Linked DNA regions of Homo sapiens: regions 2 and 3 are each linked to region 1. The links come from fine-mapping of genetic effects on gene expression. A gene starts in region 1. Each other region holds a variant in brackets. All regions are shown on one strand. Distances are between the middles of the regions.

The links. PIP is the estimated chance that this variant, and not a neighbour inherited with it, causes the effect.
Region 2: its variant is fine-mapped to the expression of NME4 in whole blood (TOPMed, PIP above 0.99).
Region 3: its variant is fine-mapped to the expression of NME4 in whole blood (TOPMed, PIP 0.95).

The regions. Positions count from the first base shown.
Region 1 is chr16:392,634-400,801 of GRCh38, forward strand. It overlaps NME4 (NME/NM23 nucleoside diphosphate kinase 4), which reads left to right and starts at 4,566. Exons shown (of 5, transcript NM_005009.3): 1 at 4,566-4,680; 2 at 6,357-6,490; 3 at 6,746-6,847; 4 at 6,994-7,106; 5 at 7,586-8,121. The coding sequence starts at 4,590. The coding sequence ends at 7,709. It overlaps LOC100134368 (a long non-coding RNA gene), which reads left to right. Exons shown (of 3, transcript NR_024453.2): 3 at 1-327. RefSeq lists enhancers at 4,157-4,206, 6,476-7,061, 8,075-8,168 and silencers at 4,497-4,986, 5,127-5,196.
Region 2 is chr16:528,109-536,280 of GRCh38, forward strand. It overlaps CAPN15 (calpain 15), which reads left to right. Exons shown (of 14, transcript NM_005632.3): 2 at 5,838-5,890; 3 at 7,921-8,034. MIR5587 (microRNA 5587) reads left to right here and starts at 7,208; the gene lies at 7,208-7,260. The variant C/T (reference allele first, on the strand shown) is at 3,345.
Region 3 is chr16:353,416-361,587 of GRCh38, forward strand. No RefSeq gene overlaps it. Among named protein-coding and RNA genes, the nearest start is that of AXIN1, 4.8 kb to the left of the region's middle. RefSeq lists an enhancer at 7,459-8,172. The variant G/A (reference allele first, on the strand shown) is at 4,840.

The sequences.
Region 1 (8,168 bases):
GCACAATCACTGCTCACTGCAGCATCAACCTCCTGGGCTCCAGCAATCCTCCTGCCTCAGCCTCCTGCAGATTCACTTCTAAGCCCACCTATGTTGCTTTTGGCCAGAAACATCAGTTCCTTGTCATGGGGGCCTCCGCACAGGGCTGCTCACAACAGGGGAGCTGCTTCTCCCAGGAGGTGGCGGAGCAGCAGCAGCTGCAGTCTTTGGTGACCAGATTGTGAAAGTGACACTCCGTCTCTTTTGCTGTGTCAGAAGTCAGTCACCAGGCATGGTCCACACTCAAGGGGTAGGCATTACACAAGGAAATGAACTGGGTTTTGCTTTTCTTGTTGAGTTACGAGAGTTCTTTTTTGTTTTGTTTTGAGACAGGGTCTCATTCTGTTGCCCAGGCTGAGTGCAGTGGTGCGATCACAGCTCAATCCAGCCTGGACCTCTTGGGCTCAAGCAATCTTCCCACCTCAGCCTTCCCGGTAGCTGGAAATACAGGCGCACACCAACACGCCCCGCTAATTTTTTATTTTTTTGTAGAGACAGGTTTCACTATGTTTCCCAGGCTGGTCTCAAACTCCTGGCCTCAAGTGATCCTCCAACCTCTGCCTCCCACAGTGCTAAGAGTACAGGTGTGAACCATCCCATCACGCCTGGCCAAGAGAGTTATTTATTTATTTATTTATTGAGACAGAGTCTTGCTCTGTCTACCAGCCTGCAGTGCCATAACACAATCTCAGCTCACAGCAACCTCCGCCTCCCAGGGTCAAGCAATTCTCCTGCCTCAGCCTCCCAAGTAGCTCGGATTACAGGCACCTGCCACCAGGCCCGGCTAATTTTATATTTTTAGTAGAGACAGGGTTTCTCCATGTTGGTCAGGCTGGTCTCAAACTCCCAACCTCAGGTGATCCACCCGCCTCAGCCTCCCAAAGTGCTGCGATGACAGGCATGAGCCACCTCGTCCGGCCCAGCATAATTTTTTTTTTCTTTTTTTAAGATGGAGTCTTGTTCTGTCACCCAGGCTGGAGTGCAAGGGCACGATCTCAGCTCACTGCAACCTCTGCCTCCCGGGTTCAAGGGATTCTCCTGCCTCAGCCTCCCGAGTAGCTGGGATTACAGGTGCATGCCACCACACCCAGCTAATTTTTTGTATTTTTAGTATAGACAGGGTTTCGCCATGTCGGCCAGTCTGGTCTCGAACTCCTGACCTCAGGCGATACACCCACCGCAGCTTCCTAAAGTGCTGGGATGACAGGCGCGAGCCACTGCGCCCAGTCTCAGCATGTTTTTAATGTGCAAAATAAAATACAAGGAAATAAAAATATAAAAAACTATACTGAAATAAATTATCAAAATATTGTAGGCCAGGCCGGGCGCAGTGGCTCACACCTGTAATCCCAGCACTTTAGGAAGCTGCGGTGGGTGTATCGCCTGAGGTCAGGAGTTCGAGACCAGACTGGCCAACATGGCGAAACCCTGTCTATACTAAGAATACAAAAAATTAGCTGGGTGTGGTGGCGAGCACCTGTAATCCCAGCTACTCGGGAGGCTGAGGCAGGAGAATTGCTTGAACCCAGGAGGTGGGGGTTGCAGTGAGCTGAGATCATGCCCTTGCACTCCAGCCTGGGCAACAGAGTAAGACGATGTCTCACCAACAAACAAACAAAATATTTTAGGCAGCGGGGCGTGGTGGCTCACACCCGTAATCCCATCACTTTGGGAGGCCAAGGCGGGTTGATCACAAGGTCAAGAGATCGAGACCATCCTGGCCAACATGGTGAAACCCCATCTCTACTAAAAAACAAAAATTAGCCGGGTGTGGTGGCGCGTGCCTGTAATCTCAGCTACTCAGGAGGCTGAGGCAGGAGAATCGCTTGAATTGGGAGGCGGAGGTTGCAGTGAGCCAGGATTACACCACTGCACTCCAGCCTGGCAACAGAGTGAGACTCCATCTCAAAAACAAAAACAAAAACAAAAACAAAATATTTTAGGCCAAGTGCGGTGGCTCAGGCCTGTTTTCCTAGTTACTGGGGAGGCTGAGGCAGGAGGATCGCTTGAGGCTGGGAGGTGAAGGCTGCAGTTGAGCTATGACTGCACCACTGCACTCCAGCCCAGGTGACAGAACGAGACCCTGTTGCTAAAAAAACAAAAATAAAACATTAAAAAATGTACGATATAGTGGCCGGGCGCGGTGGCTCATGCCTGTAATCCCAGCACTTTGGGAGGCTGAGGCGGGCAGATCACAAGGTCAGGAGATCGAGACCATCCTGGCTAACATGGTGAAACCCCGTCTCTACTAAAAATACAAAAAAAAAAAAAAATTAGCCAGGCGTGGTGGCAGGCGCCTATAGTCCCAGCTGGAGGCTGAGGCAGGAGGATGGCGTGAACCCGGGAGGCGGAGCTTGCAGTGAGCCGAGATCGCGCCACTGCACTCCAACCTGGGTGACAGAGTGAGACTTCGTCTCAAAAAAAAAACAGAGTACGCTATAGTAATATCTGCTTTTTCCTTTTTGCAATAGCTTTATTGGGATACAATTGACATACTATACACTTCACTCATATATTTTTTGTTTATTTACTATTTTTTTTCAAGAGACAGGGTCTTGCTATATTGCCCTGGCTAGTCTCAAACTCCTGGGCTTATGTGATCCTCCTGCCTCAGCTTCCCAAATTGTTGGGATAATAGGCCTGAGCAAGAGTCCAGCCTCTAAAAAGAAAGAAAGTCACTTCTTTATACCATAGTACTGCAAATTCTAGTCAGAGCAACTAGACAAGAAAATAAAATAAAAGGCATTCAGATTGGAAAGAAAGAACTGAAACCGTCTCTATTCCCATATGACATGATGTTTTTTCTTTTCTTTTTTTTTTTTTTTTTGAGACAGAGTCTTGCTCTGTTGCCCAGGCTGGAGTGCAGTGGCATGCTCTCGGCTCATTGTGAGCTCCACCTCCTGGGTTCAAGCCATTCTCCTGCCTCAGCCTCCTGAGTAGCTGGGATTACAGGCATGCACCACCATGTCCAGCTAATTTTTGTATTTTTAGTAGAGACGGGGTTTCACCACGTTGACCAGGCTGGTCTTGAACTCCTGACCTCGTGATCCGCTCGCCTCGGGCTCCCAAAGTGCTGGGATTACAGACATGAGCCAGTGTGCCCCGCTCCATATGACACAATCTTATACAAAGAAATTCCCAAGGAATTAATTAAAAACTATTAGAACTAATAAATGCATTTGGAAGGCTTGCAGGATACAAGATCAATACACAAAGCTCAATTGTTGGCCAGGCGTGGTGGCTCACGCCTGTAATCCCAGCCCTTTGGGAGGCCAAGGCGGGTGGATCACCTGAGGCCACGAGTTTGAGACCAGCCTGGCCAACATGGCGAAACCCCGTCTCTACTAAAAATAAAAAAAAACACCAGCCAGGTGTGGTGGCAAGCTCCTGTAATTCCATCTACTCGGGAGCCTGAGGCAGGATAACTGCTTGAACCTGGGAGGCGGAGGCTGCAGTGAGCAGAGATATGCCATTATTGCACTCCAGCCTGGGCAACAAGAGCGACACTCTGTCTGAAAACAAACAAACCTCAATTGTCTGTTATACACTTGCAATGGACAATTCAAATAAGAAAACAATTCCATTCACAATAGCAGCAAAAAGAACAGGCTTTTTCAAGACTCATTAAGTAAGTTCTAGCAGTGGGAGACCTAACCATTTCAAATAGTAGCATGCTGTGCTATCTACCCAAATATTACCGTACCTGTGAATTCTGTTGGTGACAAAGTCACAGGCCCTGCAACTATGAATGTGGCTTCTTCCTTATATCCGCAATTGAATGAATTAGAGGAATGCAGTCACATCAGAGGCCATTTGAGAATAAAGGTCGGATTTTTCCCCATTCAAATTCACAGACCAGGCTCACATCTGTAATCCCAGCACCTTGGGAAGCCAAGGCAGGAGGATTTCTTGATCCCAGGAGTTTGAGACCAGCATGGGCAACATAGGGAGGCCCCATCTCTACAAAAAATTAAAATATTAGCTGGTTGTGGTGGCGCGGGTCTGTAGTCCCGCCTACTCGTCCTGGCCGCAGAGTCAGCGTCTCCGGAGCGCCTCCTTCTCCCGCCCTGGGGCTCACGTGGGAATTTCACCCTCCATTGGAGGGGGCTCAGACCAGGGCTTCTAGACCTCCTTTTGGTCCGTGAATTTATTTTTGAGACAGAGTCTTGCTCTATTGCTCAGGCTGGAGTGCAGCGGTGCAGTCACAGCTCACTGCAGCCTCAATCTCCTGGGCTCACGCGATCCTCCTGCCTCAGCCTCCCGAGTGGGCCTTCCTCCGTGGGAAAGCGTTAAAACGATAGTTAACGGTTGCGTCGGTGTAAAGACGAATGCAATTCGAGAAGGATTCATTATTATTTTGTTTTTTCTTCTGATTTTTAACAGAAATTGGCGTTGAACATTTCCCCCGTGAGCGCCGGGCCACGGGGGTCCGGGGCGGCGGGGGGCTCCGGGGCGGCGGGGGGCTCCCGGGCGGGCGGGGGCGGGTCTCGGGCTGGCACCGCCCTCCGCGCCCGCTCCTCGCGCTCACAGCGGCCCGCGGGCCGGGCGTCATGGGCGGCCTCTTCTGGCGCTCCGCGCTGCGGGGGCTGCGCTGCGGCCCGCGGGCCCCGGGCCCGAGCCTGCTAGTGCGCCACGGCTCGGGTGAGTGGGGCCGCGCGCCCCGGCGGGGACGCGGAGGGGAGGAAGGGGCGCGCGCCGCTCGGCCTTTGTGCGCGCACGTGCGGGCTGGGGTCCGACTCCCCCAGAGGCCTCGGGGCGCGGGCTGCGGGGTCCGTCCGAGTTGGGGAAGGCGCCGGCTCGCACCCGCACGCCCCTCCAGTGCCCGTCCGGCTCTGCGGCTCCTTCTCGCCTCCCCAGGCCCCAGGCTGCAGGCGCCCGGCGAGTTGGCAGCCTGGGCGGGTCCGGGGCGACCGAGGGCCCGGGAGCGCAAGGAAGGCAGAGGCCGGCTGCAGCACTGGGCGGGGAGGGGGTCTCCCGGCCGGGGTGGGGGTGGGGGTGTGGGGGGGTGAGGGAGTCGGGGGGTGGGGGTGGGGGTGTGGGGGGGTGAGGGAGTCGGGGGGTGGGGGTGGGGGGAGCCGCTCCGCTGGGGCGTTCGCTGAAGGCCAAGTTAGGCCAGAATCTGACTGGGACGTCAGGCCCCAAGTCCCCGGCCCCGCCGCTGCCCGGCCCCCCCAGCTGCCACCTCACAGGACGATCCATGTCCCAGGGCTCCCTCCATCGGCTCTGAAAAGTGAGCCGCCGCCTGCAATGCCCGCACCAGCCGCAGCAGAGCCCCAGGCTACACAAGGCGCCCTGCAAACTGGGTTTTGGGGGAACAAACCAACCAGGGGGTCTTCCTCCCGTGGGCTTCAGCCGCCTGCTGGGGTTAACTTTTCCTCCTGGCCTGGCGGAGCCCCTTTGGCTCTGTCCAGATTCTGTGGGACATACAGGGTCTGGGCTCCTCTGGAAACCAGGGACCCGATGCCGGAGGGTAGCTTGGCTCTGGAGCAGCCTGGGACTATAGGAAGGTGAGGACGTCTTCTGTTTCCCTGGCAGCGTCCCCTCCAGAGGAGGACGGCTGGGGCGGAGCTCAGCGCTGACCCTGGGTCTGGAAGCGACAGGCCTTGAAACTCCACAGCAGCACAGGCCCCGTCTCCTGGCTCGGACAGAACCCTGCTACCTTCCCTCTTCAATCTTCAGGCCCCTTTTTGTCCGTGTTTCCAGGGCTCACCTGGTGGGGAAAGTGTGTTTCTCCCTGGTTCCCTGCCACTCATTCACCTCAGACACAGGGTGGGCTCTGGGTTCTTCCTCATGTGGAAAGTCGGGGCTTCAGACCATGTCTGTCGTCATCCAGAAGGGATGGAGTCAAAAGTGAGGCTGGAGTTTTGCAGGATCTCCAGACTTCCCTGAGGCCACTGAGCTGGGCTGTGCCTCTGTGGACCTCAGGGTGGTCGCTGAGCTGGGCTGTCCCTCCCTGGACCTTGAGGTGGTCCCTGAGCTGGCTCTGCCTCTATGGACCTTGCGGTGGTGGTCCCTGAGCTGGGCAGTGCCTCCCTGAACCTCGGGGCGATCTCAGGCAGCCTCTGCCTCTGCTGGGAGGAGCCATGGCCCCTGGGAGAGGCTAGAAGCCCTGGGGACACATTGCCTTGGGTGTCCCTGACAGGGACTATCATGGGGGTGTTTGTGGCTGTGGGCACCATCCCTGTCCCTTCCAGAGTGCCCTGCATAGAGGCAGACACCCTGAAGCCTGGTGACCCCTGGGCTCTGGCTGGGAAACCCGGGTCGTGGGGACGTGAAAGGGTGAGGTGGCAGTGCCTCTGACCTCTTGCCTTTTGAAGGAGGGCCCTCCTGGACCCGGGAGCGGACCCTGGTGGCGGTGAAGCCCGATGGCGTGCAACGGCGGCTCGTTGGGGACGTGATCCAGCGCTTTGAGAGGCGGGGCTTCACGCTGGTGGGGATGAAGATGCTGCAGGTAGTGGGACTCTGGGCTTGTGGGTGTCCCTGTGGGGATGGGGTTGGGGGATCCTTCTCGGCCTTTCACATCCCAGCCAGCGCCGGGGCAGGGCCTGGCTTTGGCAGTTGAAGGGGCAGGAGGGATCTATTCTGCGGTGGGGGTGCTGCCCATGCTGGTGTTATCTGCAAGGTGCCTGAGGTCAGGGCATCACAGCTGCTGTGCTAGTGCCCACGTTTACTGTCTGCGGCTCCTCCTTACCTCAATGCCACCCAGGCACCAGAGAGCGTCCTTGCCGAGCACTACCAGGACCTGCGGAGGAAGCCCTTCTACCCTGCCCTCATCCGCTACATGAGCTCTGGGCCTGTGGTGGCCATGGTACGGCAGGGCAGGGGTGGTGGAAGGGCCTGTGGGTAAAGGGCGTGTGGGTGTGTCTTTCCCCCCAGCAAAGGGAGGGGCCCTGGATTGAGCCCAGGGGCCCTTGGTGTTCCCCACTTCTCCCCAACCATTATCTCTCGCTGCAGGTCTGGGAAGGGTACAATGTCGTCCGCGCCTCGAGGGCCATGATTGGACACACCGACTCGGCTGAGGCTGCCCCAGGAACCATAAGGGGTGACTTCAGCGTCCACATCAGCAGGTACGGGGGTCCTGATACACCAGGCTGCTGCTGGGGGCAAGGAGGGCCATCACTTGGGGTGGTGGCAGATCCACGAGACCTGGCTGTCTTGCTGTGCTAGGATGAAGCCAGGTCGGACATGACAGCTCACACTGGTGAGAGCCGTGTTCTCCCAGGGCACACAGGGCAATGAGGTGTTCCCTTTGTGTTGTGTGTACCGTGCCATCGTTGCCTGTTACCTGACACCCCAAGGGGTTGGCACGGGGCAACTTGGGGGGAAATGAGGCTCCCAAAAGCTGGGGCCTGGGCGGGTCCACGAGGCTGTAAGAGGCCGAGGCCAGGCTGGAACCCGGTTTCCCAGCTCCACTGTTACTCCTTCCCTGTCTGCAGTCACAGGCTTGCTCCCCTAGACAGAGGGCAACGGGAGCAGCAGATGGTCCCTGGGATTCCTCAGGGTGCACATGAAGCCTGAGCCTCACATTGCTCCTGTCCTGGCACAGGAATGTCATCCACGCCAGCGACTCCGTGGAGGGGGCCCAGCGGGAGATCCAGCTGTGGTTCCAGAGCAGTGAGCTGGTGAGCTGGGCAGACGGGGGCCAGCACAGCAGCATCCACCCAGCCTGAGGCTCAAGCTGCCCTTACCACCCCATCCCCCACGCAGGACCAACTACCTCCGTCAGCAAGAACCCAAGCCCACATCCAAACCTGCCTGTCCCAAACCACTTACTTCCCTGTTCACCTCTGCCCCACCCCAGCCCAGAGGAGTTTGAGCCACCAACTTCAGTGCCTTTCTGTACCCCAAGCCAGCACAAGATTGGACCAATCCTTTTTGCACCAAAGTGCCGGACAACCTTTGTGGTGGGGGGGGGTCTTCACATTATCATAACCTCTCCTCTAAAGGGGAGGCATTAAAATTCACTGTGCCCAGCACATGGGTGGTACACTAATTATGACTTCCCCCAGCTCTGAGGTAGAAATGACGCCTTTATGCAAGTTGTAAGGAGTTGAACAGTAAAGAGGAAGTTTTGCACACCCAGTTCCATAACGTTGTTGGATGTATGAGCCAGGCAGGGGTCCAGAGAC
Region 2 (8,172 bases), 140 kb after region 1:
GAGCGCGGGCTCGGCGGGGCGCAGGAGGCCTCGGGGGCCGGGCGCGCCGGGCTCCGAGCCAGGGCAGGGACGGCAGGGCCCCCGGAGTGGGGTCAGCCCGCCGCCCGCTGGCGCCTCCAGGCTGGTGGGGGCCAGGGCTGGGCGATGCTTCGCAGAGGAACCCAGAGGAAGGCGGGAAGTCGGCAGGGACCTGGGCCATGTGGGTCACTTGAGGCCAGCCCCGGGGGCCGCGCACACCGGAGGCGGCCTCGGCCCTGCCTGCCCTTGAGTGCCCTTATATCCGGGCCCATCGTGCGGTCCTGGCCGCCTTAGGGATGTTGTGCTTGGTGCGGGCATCACTCCCCTCACTTGGGGAACGGCCTGGGGGCGGCCACCTGGCGTGGAGGGGCTGGCGGGAGCCCCGTCTGTGCCAGCCATGCCAGTGTTCTCTTCCGTGTTCCTCTGGGGCTGCTGCGGCACCAGCTGGGAAGTTGCAAATCTGCTGTCCTCCCGCTGGCTGCAGAAGGGGCCCCTCTAGTCCTGACCGGGGGAACTCTTGTGTGGTCAGCTGGCCCTGGCCGGGCGAGCTCTCGGGGCCCCCTTACTGCTCTGGAGTTTGTTACCGGACTGCAGGTAACAAGACCCGGAAAGCAATGGTGAGGCCCAGAACCTGAGGCCAGGCCTGGGTGTGTGGGGCCAGTGGGGAAGACTGGGACTCCGTTGGGTGCTGAAGAGTTGTGTGCTTCTCCTTCGGGAAACCCGGATCTCTTCCTCTGCCCAGGTCTGAGGGGTGCGGAAACGTGAGTCACAGTTCAGTGTGGGAGTGCCCCGTAATTGCCTCCGCGTTTCCAGAGTCTGGGGCTGGGCAAGGATATAGGGGTGATTCTCCCTTCCGGTTCTGAGTGACTTCTCAACTGTGAAGTGGGGCAAGAGAAATTGTTTTTCTGGCCTGTCTGGGGGAGGCAGGTCCTGCAGGAAACCAGCTTGGCCTGGCCTTGGGTTGGGTGTGCCTTGCCTCCTCCGAGGTCCTTCTGCTTGCGGGAGGAGCACCCCTCTTTTTCCTGCTTCTGTCTGTGTCTGAGGCTCTCCAGAGCTCCTTGATTGGCAGAGGAGCCAGTGACCTCTGAGTCCCCAGGAGAGCCCGAGGCTCAGTAACTGCATAACTGCGCAGGGCCTCTTGTCTGGGCCTCCACAGACCGTGGTCTCTGAGAGCAGGAAGTGGCTGGTCCCCTGTAATGCTGCATCTGTGTGACAGCCTCAAGCCCTGCTGGCTCTCTCTCCGGGCACCCCTCACTTGCTTCTTGCCCTGGCCTTGGGCAGCACTCCGGTAACCCCAGTGCCACAGGTGAGGAACCGAAGCTGGAGACAGCTGTTCATGGCAGGGGAGGGGCCGAGGGAGGCTGAGCGCCTGGTCTCTCCCTCCTGCTGGTTCCACCAGTTCACACGAGGCAATTGGAGGGAAGGATTCTGCTGCCCGGAAAATCCTCCGGAACCACAGGTGTTGTTCATGGGCCTGAGCCGCTCAGTGAAGAACTCGGCCGTTGGTGGCCGAGTTGCCCCTGGTCCAGCCCTCTGGCCCGCGGTGTGATGCCTCTACTCATGGCAACAGGCGTGGACAGGTGCTGAGAAGGAGGACGACATCATTAAACAAAACAGCTTGGGGTCTTTGAAAAACAGTGACAGAAACCCAGGAAGGCTGGTGACTTGTCAGGTCTGTGTCTGTCCTGGGTGGCCACTCGGCCCTGGACCGTGAGGCTGAAATGACAGGAGACACGGAGGGTGGGCTTGGGTGGTTTCCTCATAAGACACAGAAGAAGGAGGCCCCCAACCCGGGGGCTGCCTCGTGCGCTTTGCTCTCCTGTTTTCCTGCTCTGTCCCTCTGGTCCTGCCCTCTGACCCCTGGCACAGCAGGAGTGCCCAGAAGCCCAGTGGGACTTGTTCTCTGCCTAAAGCCCTTCCGCATCCCTCGTACCCACTCGGTGTGGATGTGGGTTTTCTCACCACCAGGCTGTGCCTCAGCTGTGTGGAGCCACTGGCCTCTCATGCCCCACGCTGGAGAGAACGCTGAGGTCTGTGCGGTTCTCATGTGACCCTGTAGCTGGTCCCTGGCTCCCCACTGTGGGATCTGCCTGCAGCACTTACACTTGGGACCGCCCTGTCTCCCTGCTGGATGTGGCGCCGAGGGCAGGGTCCGTTTCTGTTTCTTGGTAGGCCTAGTGTCTAGCGCTATGCAGCCGTGCGCAGAGCAGGCGGTCAGTGAGCACCTGGGGTTGGCCCTCACCACAGGCAGTTCTGAATACCTGGGTTCTGGCAGCCCAGGGGGACTCCTGCGTGCTCCAGGAAAGTAGCACAGCAGCCCCTGTGGCGTGGACACGGCCACACCTGAGCTCGGCCTGTTTCTGAGTCTGAGAGAACAGGCTTGCTGGCCTGTGATCTTTGCATGTGTGTCTCGCTGCAGGGAGGCTGTGGGTTGGGGCTGGACCTAGACCCGTTCAGCCACACCCTGTCACTATGTGGGTCACACACAGCTGGGTGGAGACCTCCCGGTGCGTGGCCCAGGGAGGTGTCTGGGCGTGGAGTCTGTGGACAGCCACATTGTACCACTAGGACAGGGGCTGCTGCTGGGCCCACAGGGTGCACGGAATGGGGTCTGTGGGAGGATGGGGGCATCCTAGCCCAGGGCAGGGACCCCGTGGGCCCCCCAAGATGAGCTGCGTCAGGCTGTTGCTTTGCACACTCTGAGGGGCCTGCCTGAGTGCTGCATGGGAAGCCAGCAGTGTGGCCGCCCTCCCCAGAACTCATCCAGGGCACCAGGGTGGACCCATGAGTCCCGTCGGGTCATGGGCATCAGCCTCGCCATCCTGGCCTCCAGATACAACGATTTGTCAGATTCCCTGAGGTCAAAGGGAAGCTTCAAGGGTTGCCATCCCCGCCTCCCTGGCGGTCCTAGACGGGATGTCAGGAGGACGCAGGGCCATCGCTGCTTTTTAAATGTCACAGTGACTGCAGCGTCTGCTCCTCTGTGGAAGGAGCTTGCTCCGCTAATGAGGGAGTTCCTCCTCATGGCCTTCCCCTCACTTCTCTTCAAAAAGTTGCCCTTTATTTTAACATTTTTTAAGTTTTATTTTTTTGAGCCAGGGTCGTGCTCTGTTGCCCACGCTGGAGTGCAGTTGCAATCATAGCTCGCTGCAGCCTCAAACTCCTGGGCTCAAGTGATCTTCCTGCCTCAGCCTCCCAAATACTGGGACTACAGGTGGGCGCCACCACACCCAGCCTCTGCCCTTTGTAAGTGAAGTCCCCCAGGCAGGTTGAACCTCTTACACCTTCTGCCCCTGCCTGATCCCCACTCCCTACCCCCCACCTCC[C/T]TGTCCCCTGTAATGAGAAAGGCAATAAGTTTTGGAGCTTTCTGGAGTTCCTGCCCCTCCTGAAAAGGTGGCTGCAGAGAGGCTGGAGCTGATGGGGAAAGAGGTGCCACGAGGCCTCCTCTGGGTTAGGGCCACACGGCTCCCAAGGCCCCCGTCTCCTTCTCTGGGGTGACAGGTGCCCCCAGGGCCACACGGCTCCCAAGGCCTCCGTCTCCCTCTCTGGGGTGACAGGTGCCCCCAGGGCCACACGGCTCCCAAGGCCTCCGTCTCCTTCTCTGGGATGACAGGTGCCCAGGGCCACACGGCTCCCAAGGCCCCCGTCCCCTTCTCTGGGGTGACAGGTGCCCCCTGTGTCCCAGAGGCTTCTGCTTGGCCACCAGTGAGGTCACCGGGCTGCCCAGACCAGGGCTGCTTCTGCCACCACATGGCAAGCAGAGAAGTAGAGAAGTGCCAAAAACCACGAGTGCTTGTCTGGTCCTTTTTTCCTGTTAAAAATAGAAGTCGGGGCTGGGTGCGGTGGCTGACACCTGTAATCCCAGCCCTTTCAGAGGCCGAGGCAGGTGGGTTGCCTGAGGTCAGGAGTTCGAGACCAGCCTGACCAAAATGGCGAAACCCCATCTCTACTAAAAATAAAAAAATTAGCTGGGTGTGGTGGTGTGTGCCTGTAATCCCAGATACTCAGGAGGCTGAGACTGTAGAATTGCTTGAACCTGGGAGGCGGAGGTTGCAGTTAGCCGGGATGGCACCACTGCACTCCAGCCTAGGCGACAGAGCTATACTCCGTCTCAAAAAAAAAAAAAAGAAAAAAAAGTAGAATTCGGTTGGGCTCAGTGGCTCATGCGTGTAATCCTAGCACTTTGGAAGGCCAAGGTGGGTGAATCACATGAGGTCAGGAGGTAGAGACCAGCATGGCCAACGTGACGAAACCCCCATCTCTACTAAAAATACAAAAATTAGCTGGGCGTGGTGGTGTGTGCCTGTAATCCCAGATGTTTGGGAGGCTGAGACACTAGAATTGCTTGAACCCGGGAGGCAGAGGTTGCAGTGAGTCGAGATGGCACCACTGCACTCCAGCCTAGGTGACAGAGTGATACCCTGTCTCAAAAAAAAAAAAAAAGCCAGCCGCTGTGGCTCACGCCTGTAATCCCAGCACTTTGGGAGGTCAAGGCGGGTGGATCACCTGAGGTCAGGAGATTGAGACCATCCTGGCTAACACGGTGAAACTCCATCTCTGCTAAAAATACAAAAAAATTAGCCGGGCCTGGTGGCAGGCGCCTGTAGTCCCAGCTACTCGGGAGGCTGAGGCAGGAGAATGGCGTGAACCCAGGAGGTGGAGCTTGCAGTGAGCCGAGATCACACCACTGCACTCCAGCCTGGGCAACAGAGCGAGACTCTGTCAGAGAAAAAAAAAAAAAAAACAGGTGATGCCTGTGCCACTGGACACACCTGCACACCATCCTCATGCTGATCACAAAAGAGGGTGAGGGGCCGGGCATGGTGGCTCATGCCTGGAATCCCAGCACTGGGGGAGGCCGAGGCGGGTGGATCACCTGAGGTCTGGAGTTCGAGACCAGCCTGACCAACATGGTGAAACCTCGTCTTTACTAAAAATACAAAAATTAGCTGGGCACGGTGGCGGGCGCCTGTAATCCGAGCTACTTGGGAGGCTGAGGCAGGAGAATAGCTTGAACCTGGGAGGCGGAGGCTGCAGTGAGCTGAGATTGCACCACTGCACCCCAGCCTGGGTGACAGAGCGAGGCTCTATCTCAAAAAATAAAATAAAAAATTTAAAACCAACAAAAAAGAGGGTGATGGCTGAGTGAGGAGTCCATGGTGGGCCCTACACAGGGCCCAGGAAGGACAGGGCGGGAAGCGTGAGCATCCTGCCCACCGCAGTGGGTCCGCCATGGAGAGCATGACCTTAGAGAAGCAAAGCCGCCTGGCTCGAAGCAGTGGCCGCCCTGCTGACAGCTGTAGTGGCCGGGTGGCACTCGGGCTGGGGTCCGGGGGAGTCTAGGTGGCCACCTGGCTGTGTGCCTGTGCCTGCCCAAGCTGGGCACCTTTCCCTGGCAGTGCCTGGGAAGCTCGGCCGCCCTCCCTGGCTGGTGCTGCTCTGCAGCCCCGCTCATGGACTCTTGCCCACGGCCTGCTCCTTGTAGCAGGGTCGGGCCGTGGGAGGTCCGGACAGGATCTTGAATGGCCCTGTCTGCGGTCCTGGCTGGCCGGAGGTTGACCGCACTGGACAGGTCAAGGGCCTTAAACCAGGGTAGTGAGGAGCCTGCTGAGCCCCTGCTGCTCCCCGGGCTGCCTTTGGCGCTCGGACAGACACCCAAGGACAGAAGCTCGGACAGCTTCTAAGGCGAAGGGTCTCCCGGGGCTGATTTCCCGGGACTCTGGCTCCTGCAGAGAGGGCTGGAGGCGGGGCTCTGTGTTCCAGGGTCAGAGTCCTCCTGGTGGAAGCTGAGGTGCCTGATTAAATGCCTCCCTTTCTAGGCAGCAGCCCAGACGCGGCACAGAGAGGGCCTGGGAGCTTGCTGCAGCTTCAGGTGAGTTTGTTCCCAAGCCCTGCGGCTCGTTTATGGGTTTGCTTGCGCTGCAGAACTGTTTGTGGAGCAGCAGGGTTGGAGTGCCCACGGCTGGGGGGCCTCTCGGAGCCCTTGATTCACAGAACCCCTGGAGGCCGGCAGCCCTGCCTGCCCTGAAGAGCCTCGTTCTCCCAGCCGTTTGGGCCGTGGTCCTGTCGTGGGAGGCGACGGTGAGGGCGGCCCGGGGTCCCGACAGGGGTGTTTGTCCCTTTGGGGACCTCCCCTGTGCTGTGGCCCCGGCCCCCAGATGGAGCTCCCCATCCCCACGGCAGCGCTGGGGCTGGGGCTGGTGAGGAGCCTGTGCACGGCCCCCACCGCTATCCTCAGCCAGGAGGGTGCCTGGTCCCTGGGGAGCGGCCTGCACCTGTTTCTGGAGAATGCTGTCCTGCCAGTTGTCATTTGGGGCGGGCGGTCGGAGTCCACGTCCTCCCCCAGGGCGGGGCCCTGGCCTTGTTTCTTGTAGGGACGATGGGAAGCCCTGTCCTCAGCCCTCCCACCCGACTCATGCAGGAGCTTCCTGTCCTTGGGGTCATCTCCTCCACAGGGGCCTTAGCGTCAGTGGGGACAAAGGCAGAGTTGCCTGTCTTCAGGTTGTGGGCACCGACTGAGCTTCGTCCCGGTAGTGGCTGGCTCTTGTTTCCTGCCTGGACCAGCAGCCTCTGGTCTGGTGGGTGCAGTTTTAGGGCGCAGTGGGGTTGCCGTGGGGCAAGGCCAGGCCACCAGCTGCCTGGACACAGGGGCCCCCGCTTTCCATCTGCTGCCCCCCACACCCCCAGCTCGGGCAGGGGTGACACCGGGGCATCCTTGTTGGGGTCGCTGTGGTTCCCATGGTGGCAAGATGGCTCTGTGAAAGATTGACGGAGATGTAGGGCCCAGGAGCAGGTGCTGTGTGAGTGGGACACGCCTGTGTCACCTGCGGGGCAGGGGAGGGCTCGGGGGTACAGCCGTGTACATGATTAGTTAGCGAGACAGTGAGGAGTGTATGCGGAGTGGACACAGCTGTGGGTGCCGCCCGCGCAAGGCTGGGGGTCGCTGTGCCAGCCCTGCTCCCATGTGGGCTCCCAGCTCCCCAGGTAGGGACGCTGACCCCGGGAGGTGCCTTTGCCTGCATCCACTGGAGCCTCAGGAGCATGCGTTCCGTCCCCACGGGTCACCCCCACTGAGCCCACCACCTACCGAGAGGCACCTCGAGACCCTGTCCTGCCACGGGTGGGCTGTCAAGGCCAGCACCAGAGACCCCCAGCAGACCTCAGTGGCCGCAGATGGAGCGGGGCGGCAATGGTCACCTCCGGGACTCAGCCCTGTGCTGAGCCCCGGGCAGTGTGATCATCCTGGCCCTTCTCGTGCACGTCCCCTGGCTGGATGCTCCTTGCTGCCCTCACGGGGTGTGTGTGTGGCATACAGGACAGGGACCGGCCAGTTGGCCCTGCTCATTAACCACTTGTCCCCACAGGGCAGTGGCGGCCTCACCTCTGCAATTCTCTGAGGCTGGATCTAGGCCACCGCCCCGTTTAAAACTAGGGCATCGGCTCCCAGGGAGGGCGGGGAGCTGCACAGTTGGACTTGTGGGGGTCAGGCATGGATCCACACAGCCCGGGGCCCTCCGCACCCTGCCCCTCCAGGGAGCCCAGAGGCGGGCGTGGCTGCAGCCTGGCTCTGTGGCAGTCATGAGTCACGGCCACTCTTGAGGCGCCGCCCTGAGAGTCAGCCCTGTGGTCACGGCTCCTGCTGGTTCCCATTCGCGAGCACCTGAAACAGCCTGGCCCACAGCAGAGGCCCGGGGGGCACATGCAGCTCACGGGAGCAGCACAGATGCTTGGCCGGCGGCAGGCCCTACAGGAGCAGCAGCGGCCCAGGGCATGTCCCTGGGGTCAGGGGTCAGAGTTCGGCATGCTCTGCGGGGGCCTCACCCTGCTGTCCCTCGGCCTGGCCTGGGCACACTCCTTGGTGACAGTGCCCCTGCACGCCCCCCCCCCCCCCCGGTTATTCAGACAGGGAGCCAGGATGGGAACCACGGACTGACCTGACCTGCGTCCTCGGGGCCACTGCACTGGGTGATTCACGTGTGCCCAGGCCCTGAGGTGGGCCGGACCTGGGAGTGGCAGGTGAGCGTTCCTCCCAAGAGCCTCTGGCTGGCCGCAGCAGGCCCTGTCCCTGCTGTCCTCAGTGGCCCTGGACATGATAACCCCCCTGCCGAGGTCTGGCCGGAGCCAGCACCCACGGCCGAGATGCAGTCAGCCCTG
Region 3 (8,172 bases), 39 kb before region 1:
CCTGGAGAGGAGGCCCTCGTGGGGACCGCCACGGCCTGCCCGCCGCCGTGAGGGAAGCAGGCTCCCAGGAGTGGGGTGGTCGGCAGGCAGGGATGGCCAGGGCCCTTGGAAGGTGGGGTGGGCTCCACCCTCCTGAGTCCCAAGGCAGCCTGGACTCACAGCGCCAGGGAACACGTTAGGCCCCAATATATGGTGGCTCTCACCCGGACAGGAGCCACAACCTCCAAAGAGCCCACCGGCTAGGACCCTCTGCCTTGATTTCTCCCAGGCACCATCTAGTATCAGAGAAGGGTTCTCCTTCCCTCCGCTGCCCAGGCCAGCCCGAGAGCAAGGCCATTGGAGTGTCCAGACCCCTGCACCCCTTCCCCTGGGCTGTCTCCACAGCGGCCCTGCCAAGGGGTCCAGTCCGATCCTGCCACCCTGGCTGCCCAGATCCGTGTCACTTGCCCTGCAGGCCACAGAGCATGAGGTCACAGCCCCAGGCACCCCACGGCAGAGAGGCACGGGCCCCCAGCAGCAGCCCCAGCACCAGCTCTGGCCAGCCCAACCCTGTCAGAACCAACCCTCTGCTCTCCACCCAGGCCTCAGCCAACCATCAGGCCCTCCCCAAGGAGGAGGATGTGAGTACCAGGATCTGCCGCCTCCCACAACAGCCCAGGGCCCTGTCCTTCCCAGAGCACTATTGGGCCTGGCACCTCCCGGGATGCTCCAGGCAGCCCCCTGGGGTCAGCTATACCCCCGTTTCACAGAGGAGACAGCTGCAGTTCAGGCCACACAGGACCAGCTCGCCTCCTGTTGGGTGAGGGCTCCCCACCTCGTCCGCCCCACACCTGAGACAACAGCCCTCATCTATCTGCCCTCTGCTTTAGGCCTCCCAGGGCTCCCTGCTGCCCACAGCCCTTCAGGGCCCTTCCTAAGGGCGCCTCCCCCACACCTTCCCCTAGATGCGTCTGGCCACTTGCCCGCCTCCGTGCTTCCGTGTCCATCATGTCCATACCTGCCAGCTCCCTCCAGGCACCTCTCACGTCACCCCCATGTCTTTCCCTGGGCTGTGTCACCCTGGATGCCCAGCCTCACCCTTCAGAGCTCCCAGGCAAGCACAGAAGTCCCAGCTCCAGGCTCCCCGAGCTTCCAGCCTACCCCCAACCAGATGCCCACAGGTGGGACTGCATGGGGAACCATGTGTGGAAGCCTCCCAGCCCTCGCCCCTGCCAGCACTCAGCATGGTGTCTGATGCCAGCATCGCTGTGTGGGAAAGGGGGTAGCATGGGACAAGGGCCACTAGGCTGTCCCCAGCCTGCCAAGGGCCCAGGCCCACCTCCCAGGGCCATCACTGTGCTCAGAGCAGGTGGGCAGGGGCTGGGGATATGAACGAAGCTGCACTGTTAGACCAACACCTGGCCCCGCTGGGTCCTGGCCGCAGGCACCCTGCCAGGTCCCACAGTGCTGGACACTGGGGCCTCCCCGCAAGCCCCCTAGCCCATTCAGCCTCAGAACCTTAGAGGAGACAGAGTGGGTGGCCTCCATGGTAAAGCACAGTTTCCAGGGATGAGGGAGTCCTGGGTGGCCAGACAGACAGCAGGACCTCAGACACTGGCCCCTGGGCTGCCCCCCGACTCCCAACAAGGTCCCCAATGCTTGCCTTGGTTCTGCAGAGCTGCTGCTGTGTCCGGGCCAGGCTCTCGGGGCTGTGTCCACGTCCATCCTCCTCTTGGCCCTCGGTGGCAGGTGTCCCCAGGCCCTGGGACCAGAACAAGGCCCTTGGGCCTCCAGCTCCTCGGGGCCCCTGCCCTGCAGGGACAGGAAGGGGGTCAGAAAGCCTGGAGGAAATGCAGCAGCCCTTCTAAAGTAGGTTGTGGTGTGGGTGTGGAGGGGAGATTCTCTGAGCCTAGTGGGGGTAGGAGGAGACCAGAGGCAGGCCAGGCAGAAGAGAGGTAGAGGAAGGCCCTGAGGAGGGGCAGGGAGGCGCGCGGGGGCCTGTGGTGTGCAGGGTGAGGTTCAGCCACCTCCCTTCCTCACAGAGCTCCTTGAAGAGGCAAACGCCCTTTGCTTCGAGCGTGAGTTTGCCACGAAGGCTTTTATTTGATTGACCGTAGATGACATTTAATCAGGTTTTGTTTCTAGGCACCAAATGAGACACTTAAGAGCAGACATGGAATTATTTTCTTCAATGTAGACATAAAAGGTATGTTTTTTTGTTTGTTGGTTTTTGGAGACGGAGTTTCATTCTGTTGCCCAGGCTGGAGCCCAGTGGCGTGATTTTGGCTCACTGCAGCCTCCACCTACCATGCTCAAGTGATCTTCCCACCTCAGCCTCCCGAGTAACTGGGATTACAGGCGTGTGCCACCACACCCCACTAATTGTTTGTATTTTTGCTAGAGACAGGGTTTCATCATGTTGCCCAGGCCGGTCTCTAACTCCTGAGCTCAAGGGATCCACCTGCGTTGGCCTCCCGAAGTGCTGGGATTACGGGCCCAAGCCACCATGCCCAGCCTAAAAGGAATACCTTGAAAATAAAGTGGCTGGCCCGGAGCGGTGGCTCACGCCTGTAATCCCAGCACTTTGGGAGGCCGATGCAGGTGGATCACGAAGTAAGGAGTTCGAGACCAGCCTGACCAACATGGTGAAACCCCATCTCTACTAAAAATAGAAAAATTAGCCAGGCGTGGTGGCGCACACCTGTAGTCCCAGCTACTCAGGAGGCTGAGGCAGGATAATTGCTTGAACCTGGGAGGCAGAGGTTGCAGTGAGCTGAGATCGCCCCATTGCACTCCAGCCTGGGTGACAGAGCGAGACTCTGTCTCAAAAAAATAAAAATAAAGAAAAGGCCAGGCACGGTGGCTCACACCCGTAGTCCTAGCAGTTCGGGAGGCCAAGGCCAGAGGATCACTTAAGCTTAGGAGTTCAAGACCAGTCTGGGCAACATAGTGAGACCTTGTCTCTACTAAACAATTTTTAAAAACTAGCTGGGCGTGGTGTTGCGCACCTATGGTCTCAGCTACTCGGGAGCGCGAGGCAGGTGGATCACTTGAACCCAGCGGTTGGAGGCTTTAGTGAGCTGTGATTGAGCCACTACACGTCAGCCTGGGCAACAGAGTAAGACCGTGTCTCCAAGAAATAAAAATTAAGAAAATAATAAAGTGAGTTTTGATGCCTTAAGTGTGTTTATCCATTTAACTGAGGAAGACCACTTATAAAAAATGACCCAAAGGAAACCCTGGAAGACACCCCAAGGACATTAGCTGGGGAGTGTTTGCCGCTGTACGATGTGTGATGGAGACAGCCAGCTGCAGAGATGGACACTGTGCAGCCACCGACCCTGCATCAGTGTAAGGGGAGCGGGGGAAGAGGACGGACGGTTCTGATCCAGGGTTCTGGAGGCTGAGGGAAGCCTTGGGTTCAGCCTCTTCCAGTCTGCCCCTTCTCTGCCCCCTCCGCTCAGTCCATAGGTGTGAGAGGTGGGAGTGGGCAGGCAGGGGAGGCCGCTGGAGGGGAGGGAGGCCCCTCGAGGGGGAGGGAGGCCTTGGACCATCCCGTTCAGGCGAGGGAGGACTGCACTTTCCATCGCAGGCAGAGCCCCCACCACCCTCCACCGCCTTCCAGGCTGTAAGGCGAGCCCCAGCTCTCATCCCTGAGCCTTCTTTTTCCATCAGTTCTGAGCCCACAGGAGAGGCCAGATGCTGCCTGTGCCCCCATCCCAAGCCCGACAGAGAACAAGGAGCTACAACACCCCAGAGACATGCCGCCAGGCCACGCACACAGGGCACCACTTTTCCTGAAAATAGAAAATGTGGGCGGGGCGCAGTGGCTCACACCTGTAATCCCAGCACTTTGGGAGGCTGAGGCGGGAGGATCACTTGAAGTCAGCGGTTTAAGATTAGCCTGGGCAACAATGCAAGACCCTTTCCCTATAGAAGCATTGTTTTTAATTAGCCAGGCATGGTGGCGTGCACCTGTGGTCCCAGGTACACGGAGACAAGAGGATGGCTTGAGCCCGAGTGGTCAAGGCTGCAGTGAGCTGAGATGGTGCCACTCCACTCCAGTCTGGGTGAGAGAAAGACCTGACACTGGGCCAGGCGTGGTGGCTCACGCCTGTAATCCCAGCACTTTGGGAGGTCAAGGCAGGCAGATCGCCTGAGGCTGGGAGTTCGAGACCAGCCTGACCAACATGGAGAAACCCCATCTCTACTAAAAATACAAAATTAGCCAGGCGTGGTGGCGCATGCCCGTAATCCCAGCTACTTGGGACACTGAGGCAGGAGAATCGCTTGAACCCGGGAGGCGGACGTTGCAGTGAGCTGAGATCGCGCCACAGCACTCCAGCCTGGGCGACAGAGCGAGACTCTATCTCAAAAAAAAAAAAAGGGCAAGAAGACTCAAAACAGTCCACGTGTTATTAGTGGAAGCAGAAGCATGAAGTTCCATTTTCTTCTTTGCATGTTCAGGAATGTCTACAGGGATGTAACAGTTATGGTCCCGTGGAACGGTCTGTGTAAGTTAACCCACTGAAGGAGACGGGCATCACGGCTGAGGCCCTGAGGGGTGGAACTGACCACTGGGCAGTGTGTGTCCAGCAGGGTGATGGTCACGGCTGATGGCAGCCACATCGCCCCACGGTGGCCTGGGGCCTGGCATGGAGGTTCTGCCACCTTCCTGAGAGACACACCCTGCCAGGGGCTTCCTGGGCCATCCCAGCTGTTGGTGTCACTTTGGGCTGGGGCCTCCCCGGCCTCCACATCTGGCAGCCCCCTTAGCACTGATGTGCCCCTAGATAGGTCCTTCCTCCTCTCCCCCTCACACCTGTCGGGCAGGTGTGTCATCCAACTATGTTGCAACAC[G/A]CTTCCTATTTGGAGTGGTCCACATAGCTCTGTAGCCAAAGCTGCCTCCGCAGGGCAGATGCCCCAGGAGTGATCCTGGTCCCCACAAAAGGCAGAGGCCTGGGGGAAGGGGAGCAGGGCCCTACCTCATATGCCCTGGCTCCAATATCAGGTCAGTGTGACTGTCACCATGGCCATGGATGACCTGACGGCCTCTGCCCCCGGGACCCACCATTGGCTGGGCACCTGTGGTCAGGAGGACCCACCCACAGAGAGGTGGAGGGTGAACCACTCAGCCGCTGCGGGGCAGGGGCCCAAAGAAACGGGTGCTGTGTGTGGCCAGGCTCGGTGGCTCACACCTGTAATCCCAGCACTTTGGGAGGCTGAGGCGGGTGGATCACCTGAGGTCAAGAGTTCGAGACCAGCCTGGCCAACATGGTGAAACCCCGTCTCTACTAAAAATACAAAAATTAGGCCAGGCACAGTGGTTCACGCCTGTAATTTTAGCACTTTGGGAGGCCAAGGTGGGCGTATCACCTCAGGTCAGGAGCTCGAGACCAGCCTGGCCAACGTGGTGAAACCCCATCTCTACTAAAAATGCAAAAAATTAGCCAGGTATGGTGGCAGGCCCCTGTAATCTCGGCTACTGGGGAGGTTGGGGCAGGAGAATCACTTGAACCCAGGAGACAGAGGTTGCAGTGAGCCAAGATTGTGCCAAGGCACTCCAGCCTGGGCAACAGAGTGAGACTCCATCTCAAAAAAAAAAAAAAAAAAGAAAAAGAAATGAAACGGCTGCTGTGGCCACAGTGCTTGGTCCCCGCTGGCTCCGGGTCCATACTTGTCCCCTGGGGCAGGCCCCAGACCTGCCGTCACCCACGTCGCCTGCGCCCAGCCCCGTCCAGCAGACCTGACAGTCCCCACATCCCCGCTGGCCTCCAGGGGTCAAGGGTCAGGACGCCAAGGCCAACAGGAAAGCACTGGCAACAGGGCGGGGGCCTGGCCAGCCAGGCGGCCCAGAGGCGGTCCCCTCCATCCCAGGGTACTGTCCACACCTCCCAGTGTCCTGAGGGGAGTCCTCCTGCACTGCCTTTCTGAAGAGTTCTGACCCCAGGGTGTCCAGGGGCTGGGACTGGGGCCAGGTGGATACCAGGATGTGGTCAAGTAGGCCTGCCTGGAGGGTCCGGCCGCAGGGGCTGGGGAAGTAGGAGGGGAGGGCGGCCACCACTTCCCAACTCGGGAGCTGCTGACATCAGGGGACTGTTGGGCCTGGCCTGGCACCTGCCTCCCAGGAGACCTGAGTGCCCATCCTTGTCTTGGGCCAGCCTGTAGCCCTAGGCAAAGCAGGCACCTCCTTGTGCCAGTGTCCCCCTGGGCAAAGTGATCGTCCTGACCTGGCCTCACAGCCCCAGAGGTCCGTGTGTGACCCTCTCTGACAGGCCGGGTGGCGGGATGGAGCCCACGGCTGGCCATGGACCAGGTCTGGTGTCCCAGGCACATTGTGAGCACAGGGCAGGGCCTGCTGGCCTCCCCCAACCTCAGTGCTGTTTTCCCAAAAAGAGGTGGCATCCAAGTGCAGGGGCCATGCCCCGAGGGGCCTCGCGCTGACTTCGGGAAGTAGCAGGTGACGTCCCACCTCCCTGGGCAGCCTCAGGCCGCTTCCTGTCCTTGTTGGGGGGACTCCTGCCCCTGCCACACCGACCACAGTCCTTGTCCCTGCTGTTCCCTCACCTGAACGCCCTTCCCTGCCCTGACGGCCTCCATCCCACACGCCTCTCCGGGCGCTGCCGCCCCCCCGTTGGTGCTCATCTGTCCTTCTGCCCACTATCCCCAGCGGCCCCGATACCTGCACACCCCAGTGCCCAGCGGTTCCCCCTCGAGCTGGCAAGGGGACATTAAATGGGAGGTGAGGAAGTGCGGCCCCCAGCGGGCAGCTGCCTTTGCCCCGGCCCACCTGCGCCCCCGCCCACCTGTGCCCTCCGCCGCCTCCCTCTGCTTGGCTGTCCCAAGATGTCTCTCTCCACTGCCTAGGAACCCTGAGGCCGCGGCCAAGTTCTGAGCGTGTGACTGTGTGTGCTGGGCCCCAGGCCCCTTTGTCGCCGCGGCGTCTGTCGTGGCAAACAAAAGTGAACCGGATTAGCCACAGTGGATTAAAAGATTTACGTCTCAGAGTTTACCTAATAACCTAACAATCGTGTCAACGGGAGCTTTGAACCCCCAGGGCGCGCCTGCCAGGCCAACTGAGAGCTCAAGGCCTCTGTGGGCAGCAGGACGTGGTCGGGGGGAGGAGACGCAGCCACGGCTGTCCTCACACCCAGCTCGGCCCCTGCGGGCTCCTCTGGGCAGAACCTGGGGAAGGCACGGCCTCTAGCAGGAGGTGGAGGCCTTTGAAAGGGTGCAGGTGTTGGGACCAGGTACCCGGCCCAGGCCCCCAGCCGCGTCCACACACGTCGCACACGGCAGCAAGGACGCAAGCAGTGTGGAGGTGGCCGCGTCGGCGACGTATGGGCCCCGTGGTGCTGCGGTGCACGACCTCTGTGCTGTCACCCCACAGTGTCCGCTCCTGCACGTACACGCGTGCACGCGCACACACGTGCACACGCACACACACACAAGCACGCCCCGCTTTGATCTCTAAAGGAGAGTCCATTGACAAGCTCTTAATCGCAGCTGCCCTTGCAGGGCCTGTCCCTGAAGTCCCGAGTAATGGGATTTGGCGCTTCTGATCCATCGGGCTGGCCGCTTCCCGTGTCATAGGTGGACATTTTTTTTCTTTATATCGCTTCTGTTTCTTTTTTTTTTTTCTCCTCGAAAAAATGCTGCTTAAACGGCACCGACTTGACATGGCTTGTCTCCTAACCTTGGAGTGGCGGCCGGGACGCCGGCCTGGATCAGTCGGGGGTCTTTGATGCCGCCTCCATGTGAAACCTGACGTGGAAGACCCACCGGGGCGGTTTTGGGGTCCGAGGTCCGTCAGGATTCATCCTGCCTCACCCTGCTCCCTTTGTCTCTTCCCCTGACCCTTCCTCGGGACACCCGGAGAGGGTCTGAGGGTGAGGGTGCGGGCGCTGCGTGTGGGCTTGCACTCGAGGGTGGGGTGGGCCGAGGGCAGGGCCGCAGCCGCGAGAACAATGGGCAGAGGAGGCGCGTCCACCTGTCCGCCCGGCCGCCTGCCCGGCTTACCTCACCTGCCTGGCTCCGTGTGCCTGCTCACGCCCCACCGTCCCGCTGTCCGCCATGATGGGCTTGGCCGTCCGTCCGAGCACTTTCAGCCACTCTGGGAAGCAGGTCCCTGCTCTTGGCCACTGTGTGGCTGGGAGGCAGAAGCGTGACTCTGGGCTGCAGCTCGGGCTCCTG